Regions from separate parts of the Homo sapiens genome. Here region 2 is linked to region 1. The links come from fine-mapping of genetic effects on gene expression. A gene starts in region 1. The other region holds a variant in brackets. All regions are shown on one strand. Distances are between the middles of the regions. Region 1 holds the start of NAA40 (N-alpha-acetyltransferase 40, NatD catalytic subunit). Region 2 holds the start of COX8A (cytochrome c oxidase subunit 8A).

The links.
Region 2: its variant is fine-mapped to the expression of NAA40 in whole blood (TOPMed, PIP 0.90).

The regions. Positions count from the first base shown.
Region 1 is chr11:63,935,737-63,941,100 of GRCh38, forward strand. It overlaps NAA40 (N-alpha-acetyltransferase 40, NatD catalytic subunit), which reads left to right and starts at 3,266. Exons shown (of 8, transcript NM_024771.4): 1 at 3,266-3,366. The coding sequence starts at 3,361. RefSeq lists enhancers at 2,269-2,769, 3,008-3,147 and silencers at 2,868-2,917, 3,178-3,257, 3,187-3,372.
Region 2 is chr11:63,972,785-63,978,148 of GRCh38, forward strand. It overlaps COX8A (cytochrome c oxidase subunit 8A), which reads left to right and starts at 1,836. Exons shown (of 2, transcript NM_004074.3): 1 at 1,836-2,010; 2 at 3,441-3,759. The coding sequence starts at 1,897. The coding sequence ends at 3,536. RefSeq lists enhancers at 1,750-2,189, 4,487-5,164. The variant T/C (reference allele first, on the strand shown) is at 3,031.

The DNA.
Region 1 (5,364 bases):
CGCCCAGACTGGAGTGCAGTGGCCTGATCTCGGCTCACTGCAAACTTCGCCTCCCATGTTCAAGCAATTCTCCTGCCTCAGCCTCTCGAGTAGCTGGGATTATAGGCACCTGCCATCACGCCTGGCTAGTTTTTGTATTTTTAGTGGAGATGGGGTTTCACTATGTTGGCCAGGCTGGTCTCAAACTCCTGACCTCAAGTGATCTGCCTGTCTCAGCCTCCCAAAGTGCAGGGATTACAGGCATGAGCCACCACCTTGCCCAGCCTGGACTGTCCTTCCTTTGACCTTGTCCCTACATTCTCATCTCAACCCAGAAGCCAGGGTGGTTCTAGGACCTCCTCTGCCTGCAATGCCCTTTCCCCAGACGTCCTCATTACTTGCTCCCTCACCTTCAGATCTTGACTCAAGTATCACCTCATGTTTGCCTTTCCTGAGCATCCTAGTTAAAACTATAAATCTCTCTCTTTTTTTTTTTTTTGAGATGGAGTTTCATTCTTGTTGCCCAGGCTGGAGTACGACGGTACAATCTTGGCTCACTGCAACCTTTGACTCCCCACTTCAAGTGATTCTCCTGCTTCAGCCTCCCGAGTAGCTGGGATTACAGGCATGTGCCACCACACCCAGCTAATTTTGTATTTTTAGTAGAGACAGGGTTTCTCCATGTTGGTCAGGCTAGTCTTGAACTCCTGACCTCAGGTAATCCTCCCGCCTTGGCCTCCCAAAGTGCTGGGATTACAGTCGTGAGCCACCGTGCCCGGCCTTTTTTATTTATTTTATTTTATTTTATTTTATTTTATTTTATTTTATTTTTCGAGACAGAGTCTCGCTCTGTTGCCCAGGCTGGAGTGCAGTGGCACGATCCTGGCTCACTGCAAGCTCCGCCTTCCGGTTCATGCCATTCTCCTGCCTCAGTCTCCCGAGTAGCTGGGACTACAGGCGCCTGCCACCATGCCCGGCTAATTTTTTTGTATTTTTAGTAGAGATGGGGTTTCATGGTGTTAGCCAGGATGGTCTCGATCTCCTGACCTCGTGATCTGCCTGCCTCGGCCTCCCAAAGTGCTGGGATTACAGGTGTGAGCCACTGCGCCAAGCTTTTATTTATTTTATTTTTTTTTGAGACCGAGTCTGGCTCTGTTACCCAGGCTGGAGTTCAGTGGCGCTATCGGCTCACTGCAACCTTCACCTCCCGGGCTCAAGCAATCCTCTAACCTCAGCCTCCAGAGTAGCTGGGACCACAAGTACACGCCACCACGCCTGGCTAATTTTTTTTTATTTTTAAATTTTTTTGCAGAGACAGGATCTTACTCTGTTGCCCAGGCTGGTCTCAAAGTCGTGAGCTCAAGCAGTCCGCCCATCTCAGCCTCCTAAAGTGTTGGGATTACAGGTGTGAGGCACTGCGCCAGGCCACAACTATAAATCTTGACCTTCCCTGTGCTCTCTCCCTGCTTTTTCTTCCTTCTAGAGCCTGTATCATTTTTTTTTTTTTTTGAGACTCTCTCTGTCGCCCAGGCTGGAGTGCAGTGGCACAATCTCGGCTCACTGCAAGCTCCGCCTCCCGGGTTCACGCCATTCTCCTGCCTCAGCCTCCCGAGTAGCTGGGACTACAGGTGCCCGCCACCCTGCCCGGCTAATTTTTTGTATTTTTTTAGTAGAGACGGGGTTTCGCTGTGTTAGCCAGGATGGTCTCGATCTCCTGACCTCGTGATCCGCCCGCCTCTACCTCCCAAAGTGCTGGGATTACAGGCGTGAGCCACCGCGCCCGGCCGAGCCTGTATCATTTAACTAACTATGTATATTACCTATTTATTTCATCTATTATCGGTCTCCTCCTTCTAGGATACAAGGGTGGTGCCTATTCTGTTTCTTATTGTTGTTTTCCTTGCTGCTTGGAACAGTGCCTAGCATACAGTAGGCACTGGATAAATGTTGTTGAGGCCACCACTGTACTGAGCACTAAAGTTGGAATAATGAGGCTAAGCACAGTGGCTGACGCCTGTAATCCTAGCACTTTGGGAGGCCAAAGTGGGAGGATCGCTTGGGCCCAGGAGTTTGGGACCAGTCTGTGTAACACAGTGAGACCCCATCTCAACAAAAAATAAATAAAAATTGAGCTGCGTATGGTAGTGCACACCTGTAGTCCCAGCTACTCAGGAGGCTGAGGCGGGAGGATCGCTTGAGCCCAGGAGGTCGAGGCTGCAGTGAGCTGTGATTGCACCACTGCACTCCAGCCTGGGCGACCGCGAGACCCTGTCTCTTAAAAAAACAAAAAGATGGAATAATGAGCAAAACCTGAAAAAGTCCATGAAGCTTAAGTGTTGGGCAGCATTTCACTAATTTTCGTCTTGAAGCATTTCACTAATTTTCGCTCCCTACCTGGGGAGCACTAGGAAGTGAAGACTCTGGCTCCACCCCTGGAGATTCTGGGGGAGGTTGGCAGAGGTGTGCACACTGCGGAAGCGCCCCCGGCGGTTTGGATTCGGGTCACGTGCGGGTCACTCCGGTGTGCTGGGGATGGGTTGAAATTAAAACTTTCCGGGATGCCTGGTGTTCACGCTAACAGCACTGTCCACTCTCTCCTAAACAGTGCTTACGTGCCCGTCTCCCCTCTAAACCCTGAGGTGTGGCGCTGAGATGGCACCTCGCTCCTCTCTGTGCCCCCTGGGCTCAGCACCGCGTAGATGCGAGTTAATTTTTATTGAGAACGTGAATGAATGAGGGGGAATGAATGGTTAGAAGACGAATGAATGAGTAACAGGACTCTGGTTAGAAAAGGAATTTCAAGAGTCAAGATCTGGAAGGTGGGAAAGTTTCCAAAGACTTCCGCTACGCGCGCTAGGGCTCTGGAGGGGCAGGTACTTTAGAGGTCGAGACGCGATTGGCCGCCTGGGAAGGTGGCTGTGCCGCCGGCTGCTACGCGCGGGGCCAAGGAGTCGCTGGCCGCAGGGGAGGTGCTGCCAACCACCCGGCCCCCAGCGGCGCGCGACTCACGGCCTGGGTGAGCAGCCAGGCCTGGCGCCGCCGTTGCCATAGTTACAGACGCAGCCCTGCGAGGGGGCGGGCTCTGGCCGCACGTCATTCCCGGCGCGACGCTCCTCCGCGCTCCCGCCTCCTCCTGGTCGGAGACCCTCGGCCAGCCTAGCGGGCGCTCCACCTGCGCGCCGGCTCACCGCTGCCCTGCGCCGGTTCTGCGCCGGCGCGGTACGAGGGCGCGCGGTTGGGCGGGGGGGGGGGGGGAAGCTGCGAGGCGCATGCGCGTTGCAGGGCCGTCCGCTCTGCTGCCGCCGCTGTTGCAGCCACCGCCGTTGCCGCCTCCCTGCCGGCAAGTGTGTGAAGAAGAAGCTGAGCGTTGTCGCCGCCGCTATGGGGGTGAGTGAGGCAGAGAGAGGAGATGGGAGGTCCAGGGGCGCTCCTCGCTACCCTCGCCCCCTTTGTTCTTAAACCCCCCTCTCACGTGACCCCGACCCCCTCCAGCCTCACGTGACCCCTGACCCCCACATGACCCGACTCCCCCATTCTAAGGGTCCCTACGCTAGGCCTAGCCCGGGAATCCTCTGGAGAGCCCCTGGTCCGGGGCCCCACCCCCTCGGCGCCCCCAGCGTCACGCCCGCCCCTTCCTGCTTCGCGGACCCGTTACTGGCCTCCCCACCACCGTCCCCCGCGGGGACCCTGGGGTTAGCTTCCCGCTCCCCCAGGGTCACTCATCACCTGGCTGTCACCAGCTTCGTCGCTTTTCACATCCGAGGTCAACCCTGGCTTGGAGGGAATTGAGGCCCAGAGGAAAGAAGGCGCCTAGCCAAGGTCATATTGTCGGGGGCGTCAGACCCCACCTTGGGCCTCCCGAATCCCAGTCCACTGCCCTTCCCGTTACTCGAGTCTCAGCGAAGCCGGTTCCCCTACACTCTTTCGAAACCTCTCCACCAGGTTCCTGCTGCTCCTGATAAACACAGCCTTCCTTTCCCATAGACTCCTGCCTTCGACGCCTCCTGGTTGCAATGAAATGGTTCTTACGACCGCTTGGGTTGTTAGGGGTTTTGGTAGTGCAGGTGTTTTTTGCAAGGGGAGGGCTGTGCAGGTGTGCGGGGAAGATGCGGGGAGGCGGGGGCGGCGGCCCAGCCGCGGATGGATATTGACCACTTGTTCCGTGCCGGCAGCCTGGAGGTGCATTTTAGTTTACTTTCCCGGGATATAGGGTAGGGCAGAAGTTATTTGCAAGTTTCTGTGCGTTCACCTTACTAAGTCTCAATTACAGCAGTATCAGTCACCCTCCTAAAAAGATAACGCTTTTCCTAGTATTGGCTGTATTCTTTTTTTTTTTTTTTTTTTTTTTTTTTGATATGGAGTTTTGCTCTTGTCGCCGAAGCTGGAGTGCAATGGCGCGATCTCGGCTCACTGCATCCTCCTTCTTCTGGGTTCAAGCGGTTCTCCTGCCTCAGCCTCCCCAGCAGCTGGGATTACAGGCGCCCGCTACTATGCCCGGCTCATTTTTGTATTTTTAGTAGAGACAGGGTTTCACCACGTTGGCCAGGCTGGTCTCGAACTCCTGACCTCGTGATTCACCCGCCTAGGCCTCCCAAAGTGCTGGGATTACAGGCGTGAGCCACCACACAGGCCTATATTAGTATTTACATGGAATTTCCATCACCTTAAGGGAACCCTGACTTTGGAGCCCGAGGTACCTCACTTCCAGCCCCGTCTTCGCTGCTGGTGGTATAATAGTGTGCCAGTGAGTTGGCCTTTATGTGTTTGAATTTCCTCACCTCTGTAATTGGGATGCTAATACCTCCCCCTTAGGGTAGTAGTGAAGATTAAGTGAGATAATGGATGTAGATTGCTAAGGAGGTGTCTCCTAAGTAGTGGCTGTTATTTTTGTCTGTATCCTCAGCCTTAACTTTACTGATCTAAAATGGATTTGTGCTATTTTTAACCCATTGGGTTTGTCCCTACTGTTGTTAACCTAGTTTTTTTTTTTCCCGTCACTCCACTATTTATCGACTGAACAAATCAACTTATTAGACAAAAATAGTTGTCTAATCCGTGTCAAAACAGTCATCGTGTTTTAACAAATAGTTTTGGGTATTACGTACTTCATATGTAGAAAACCAAGTCTAGAGACCTTAGGCATATTTAACCTAAATTTTGGTGAAAGGTCCTAGACACAGCCATTGTTGAAACTAAATGAAACCTGTGTCCCTTAGTAACTGTCTAACCAGAAGCAGCCACTGCGGATTAAGCAGAAAACAAGAAGTGTAACATGCCGTTCTAGTTCAACACTTCCTCGTTGGTTGGACTGAAATAGCAGGCCCTCAACACCATAAGACAGGGTGAAGGAAAAAAGAAATATGCCCCAGAGATTCTGCGATCCTT
Region 2 (5,364 bases), 37 kb after region 1:
GGCGGAGGTTGCAGAGAGCCAAGATAGTGCCACTGCACTCCAGCCTGGGCAACAGCGCAAGACTCTATTTCAAAAAAAAAAAAAAAAAAAAAAAGCCAGGCATGGTGGTGGGCACCTGTAATCCCAGCTACTTGGGAGGCTGAGGTGGGAGGTTGGCTTGAGTCTGGGAGGTGGAGGTTGCAAGGCTGCAGTGAGCCGAGATCACACCACACTCCACTCCAGCCTGGGCTTAGAGCTAGACCTTGTCTCAACATCAATAACAAAATGCAGAGTGCATTTTGAATGCAACAAAAGGCTTGTTGGTGGAAATCAGAGAGCAGGGTCGAAGGTGTGGAATATTGAAGAGTTTTGAGAGTTGAGGCTGGACAGTGACATCCGGGAATTGGGATTTTGACTAGGAAGCAATGGGGAGCCACTGAAAGTATATGACTTGGTCAGATTTAGGTTTAAAAAACCAAGAAGGAAGGGATGGGGGAGGGAGAGAGAGTGATAGGGTAGGAAGGAAGGGAAGTTGGCTGCTCCAGCATGGTAACTGGAATTGAAGAGTGTAATAGTAATTGAGGGAGGTTTGGTTACTAGGTCAGTGTCAGGAATTCTCAACAAAAACGACGGAGGCCTGGTGGAGAGGAGGGGACTCTCAATAGAGAGATTTTTTTTTTTTTTTTTTTTTGAGACGGAGTCTTGCTGTGTCGCCCAGGCTGGAGTGCAGTGGCGTGATCTCAGCTCACTGCAACCTCTGCCTACCGGGTTCAAGCAGTTCTCCTGCCTCAGCCTCCCTAGTAGCTGAGATTACAGGCATCTACCACCATGCCTGGCTATTTTTTGTATTCTTAGTCGAGATGGAGTCTCACCATGTTGGCCAGGCTGCTTTCGAACTTTTTTTATTGTTGTTTTTTATTTTTGAGATGGAGTTTCGCTCTTGTGGCCCAGTCTGGACTGCAATGGCTCAATCTCGGCTCACTGCAACTTCCGTCTCCTGGGTTCAGCAATTCTCCTGACTCAGCCTCCCGAGTAGCTGGAATTACAGGCGCCCACCACCATGCCCAGCTAATTTTTGTATTTTTAGTAGAGACGGGGTTTCACCATGTTGGCCAGTCTGGTCTCGAACTGTTGACCTCAGGTGATCCACCCGCCTCGGCCTCCCAAAATGTTGGGATTACAAGCGTGAGCCACTGCGCCCGGCCAATTTTTGTATTTTTCGTAGAGATGGGGTTTCACCATGCTGGCAAGACTGGTCTCAAACTCCTGACCTCAGATGATCTACCGGCCCCGGCCTCCCAAAGTGTTGGGATTACATGCGTGAGCCACTGCGCCCGGCCAATTTTTGTATTTTTCGTAGAGATGGGGTTTCACCATGCTGGCAAGACTGGTGTCAAACTCCTGACCTCAGATGATCTACCCGCCCCGGCCTCCCAAAGTGCTGGGATTAGAGGCGTGAGCCAACGCGCCCAGCCCGTACTTTTTTTTTTTTAGTACAGACGGCCTCCCAAAAGTTCTGAGATTACGGGCGTGAGCCACCACGCCCAGCCTGAATAGAGAGAGATTTAACAGTATGAATGAAGGGAGGAGTCAAGAACAGTTTAGGCTTCTCGCGTACATGATTGGGTGGCCCCAGATGTCATTCACAAGTATAAGCCTTGGAGGCGGAACATAACTCGAAGAAGAGCCCTTTTGTGCTCCGCCCATAGCGTAGGAAGGTGTCAATTGGCTGTTTCGAGGAACGCGCCAAAAACTGCCAAGGGCTGTGGGAGGTGTGTTCTTGCGTCATTTCCGAGAGACTTCCGCGCCGCAGTTTCCCTGCTTCCCCAGCTCCAGAACTTCCGGCCAGCGCAGCCATTTTGGCTTCCTGACCTTGGGCTACGGCTGACCGTTTTTTGTGGTGTACTCCGTGCCATCATGTCCGTCCTGACGCCGCTGCTGCTGCGGGGCTTGACAGGCTCGGCCCGGCGGCTCCCAGTGCCGCGCGCCAAGATCCATTCGTTGCCGCCGGAGGGGAAGCTTGGGATCATGGTGAGGAACGGGCCTGGAAGAGCGCGGGAGGCGCCGTGGGCTGACCCCTTCTGCCTAGCTGACCTCAGGTGGTCCTGAGAATGCCTCGCGCCCCGCAGCGTAGCGGGGAGCAGCAGTGCCGGTTTGGGCATGTCTGGAGGGCGCGAACGACGGGGACAGTGCCCGGGCGACAGTCGGGGCTGTCGGCGTTAGGTCTTTCCCCACAGCCCCAGGATCTCGGGTCTGGTCCTGTCAGGCCCTCCCTCTCCTGTCGCCTCCTCGCTGCGCCGCCTCCTGCCGACTTCTTTAGCCGCTCTGAGCCCATTTTCTCGTTGGTTCACTGGGGGATGCCTGACGCTGTCAGCGACGAAAATGGTTGTTACTGCTATTTATTTTATTTTATTTTATTTTACTTATTTATTTTGAGACGGGTTCTCGCTCTGTCGCCAGGCTGGAGTGCAGTGGCGCGATCTCGGCTCACTGCAGCCTCCGACTCCCGGGTTCAAGCGATTCTCCTGCCTCAGCCTCCCGAATAGCTGGGACTACAGGCGCGTGCCACCATGCCCAACTAAATTTTGTATTTTTAGTAGAGACGGGGTTTCACCATGTTGGCCAGGATGGTCTCGATCTCTTGACCTCGTGATCCGCCTGCCTCAACCTCCCAAAGTGCTGGGATTACAGGCGTGAGCCACTGCGCCCGGCCTGGGAGGGGGTTTTCAGGCAAGGAAGGATAGGTATCGTTTTGGAGTTACTGGCCCATGCAAGGATCCTGGGTCTTAACATACAGGCTTTGCTTTTTTTGTTTGTTGTTTGTTTTTTTGAGACGGAGTCTTGCTCTGTCACCCAGGCTGGAGTGCAGTGGTGCGATCTCGGCTTACTGCAACCTCCGCCTCCCAGGTTTAAGCCAAGCCATTCTCCTGCCTCAGTCTCCCGAGTAGCTGGGATCACAGGCGCCCGCCACCACTCCCGGCTAATTTTTTGTATTTTTAGTAGAGACGGGGTTTCACCATGTTGGTCAGGCTGGTCTCTAACTCCTGACCT[T/C]GTGATCCGCCCGCCTTGGCCTCCCAAATTGCTGGGATTACAGGTGTGAGCCACCATGCCCGGCCCAGACCAGCTTTAAAACAGGTTTCAATAAATCCTGCTTCCTGTCCCTTCCTTTACCATCTGGTGGTGCATTTCTCCCTGAACCCTAACCCCAGCTGTCTCTCCTTCCTCTCACTCTTCCCCCTCCTTATAACTGACCCTTTACCTCAAGGGTTAGCGTAGCTTTGGACCTGCTCTGTCTGCTCCGTGGAGCGTGGATTCCTTTAACGTGAGGATGCGGGGCCTCCCACTTGCCTCTGAGTCCTGGCTCCCTGAGCGGGGCTTTCTGCTGCCTGGGAACTGCAAGGACTTAGAGAGCCTAGGGGAATACTGACTCCGAGGTGCCTTCTTTCTTGTGCTCTGTGTAGGAATTGGCCGTTGGGCTTACCTCCTGCTTCGTGACCTTCCTCCTGCCAGCGGGCTGGATCCTGTCACACCTGGAGACCTACAGGAGGCCAGAGTGAAGGGGTCCGTTCTGTCCCTCACACTGTGACCTGACCAGCCCCACCGGCCCATCCTGGTCATGTTACTGCATTTGTGGCCGGCCTCCCCTGGATCATGTCATTCAATTCCAGTCACCTCTTCTGCAATCATGACCTCTTGATGTCTCCATGGTGACCTCCTTGGGGGTCACTGACCCTGCTTGGTGGGGTCCCCCTTGTAACAATAAAATCTATTTAAACTTTACTTCAGAAATTCATTGTGCCTTCCCTCCTGCCTGGGCTCATGCCTCCACTGGCACTGGGTGGAGGTGTGGAGAAGAGCGCCCGGCTGGCTGCCCTGTGGTAGGTTTTGTGTGCCTCAGCTGGACTCCTCGTGTGCTTCTGTACCTTTAAATGGTGCCTGGCTTCCTGGGAAGACAAAGCCTGTTGTCATTGTGCAGCTTTTCTGGCTCATCCCCTCCAGCTCCCTTGTTTGTGCAAAGCCCAATGGGCGTGTATGTGTCTGTGTGTGTGTGTGTGTGTGTGTGTGTGTGTGTGTGTGTGTGTCCCACTGGGGCTGGATCTTCAGCTAGAAGCCTTTCCTCTAAGGGGCCAGCCTTCTCTGGTCTTCCTTTTTGGTGGACTTCATTTCTTAGGTGCTGGTGCCCTTCCTAATTGGGGGTAGGGACTTTGCAGAATCTTGGCTTTTTTTTTTTTTTTTTTTTTTTTTTGAGACTGACTCCTGCTCTGTTGCCCAGGCTGGAGTGCAGTGATGCGATCTCGGCTCACTGCAACCTCCGCCTCTCAGGTTCAAGGGATTCTGCTGTTTCAGCCTCCTGAGGCATTACAGGCACCCACTACCACGCCCGGCTAATTTTTTTTTGTATTTTTAGTAGAGACGAGGTTTCACCATGTTGGCCAGGCTGGTCTCGAACTCCTCCTGACCTCAAGTGATCCACCCACCTTGGCCTCCCAGAGTGCTGAGATTACAGCCACTGCGCCTGGCAATCTTGCCTTTTTAATTTTTTTTTCAAGACAGAGTCTTGCTCTGTCACCCAGGCTGGAGTGCAGTGGTGTGATTTCGGTTCACTGCAACCTCTGCCTCTGGTGTTCAAGCAATTCTCCTGCCTCAGCCTCCTGAGTAGCTGGGATTACAGGCACATGCCACCACACCTGGCTAATTTCTGTATTCTTAGTAGAGATGGTATTTCACCATGTTGGCCAGGTCTCAAACTCTTGACCTTGTGATCCACCCTCCTCGTCCTCCCAAAATGCTGGGATTAACAGGCGTGAGAGACCGCTCCGTGCCCCCGCTTTTTTTTTTTTTTTTTTTGAGGCTAGACTGCAGTGGCGCAATCACAGCTCTGTAGCCTTGACTTTGACTGCAGCCTTGACCTCCCAGGCTCAAGCGATCCTCCCACCACAGGTTGTACCCCAGTAGCTGGGACTATAGGCATGTGCTACCACCATGCCTGGCTAGTTTCATCTTTTTTTTTTTTTTTTTGAGACTGAGTCTCACTCTGTTGCCCAGGCTGGAGTGTAGTGGAACAATCTCGACTCACTGCAACCTCCGCCTCCCGGGTTCAAGTGATTCTCAGCCTCCTGAGTAGCTGGGATTACAGGCGCTCGCCACCATGCCCGGCTAATGGTTTTTTTTTTTTTTTTTAAGTAGAGATGGGGTTTCACCCTGTTGGTCAGGCTGGTCTCGAACTTCTGACCTCGTGATCCGCCCACCTCGGCCTCCCAAAGTGCTGGGATTACAGGCATGAGCCACTGCGCCCAGCCATACCTGGCTAGTTTCTTAAAACATTTTCTTGTAGAGATGGGGTCTTACTATGTTGGACAGGCTGATCTTGAACTCGTGGGCTCA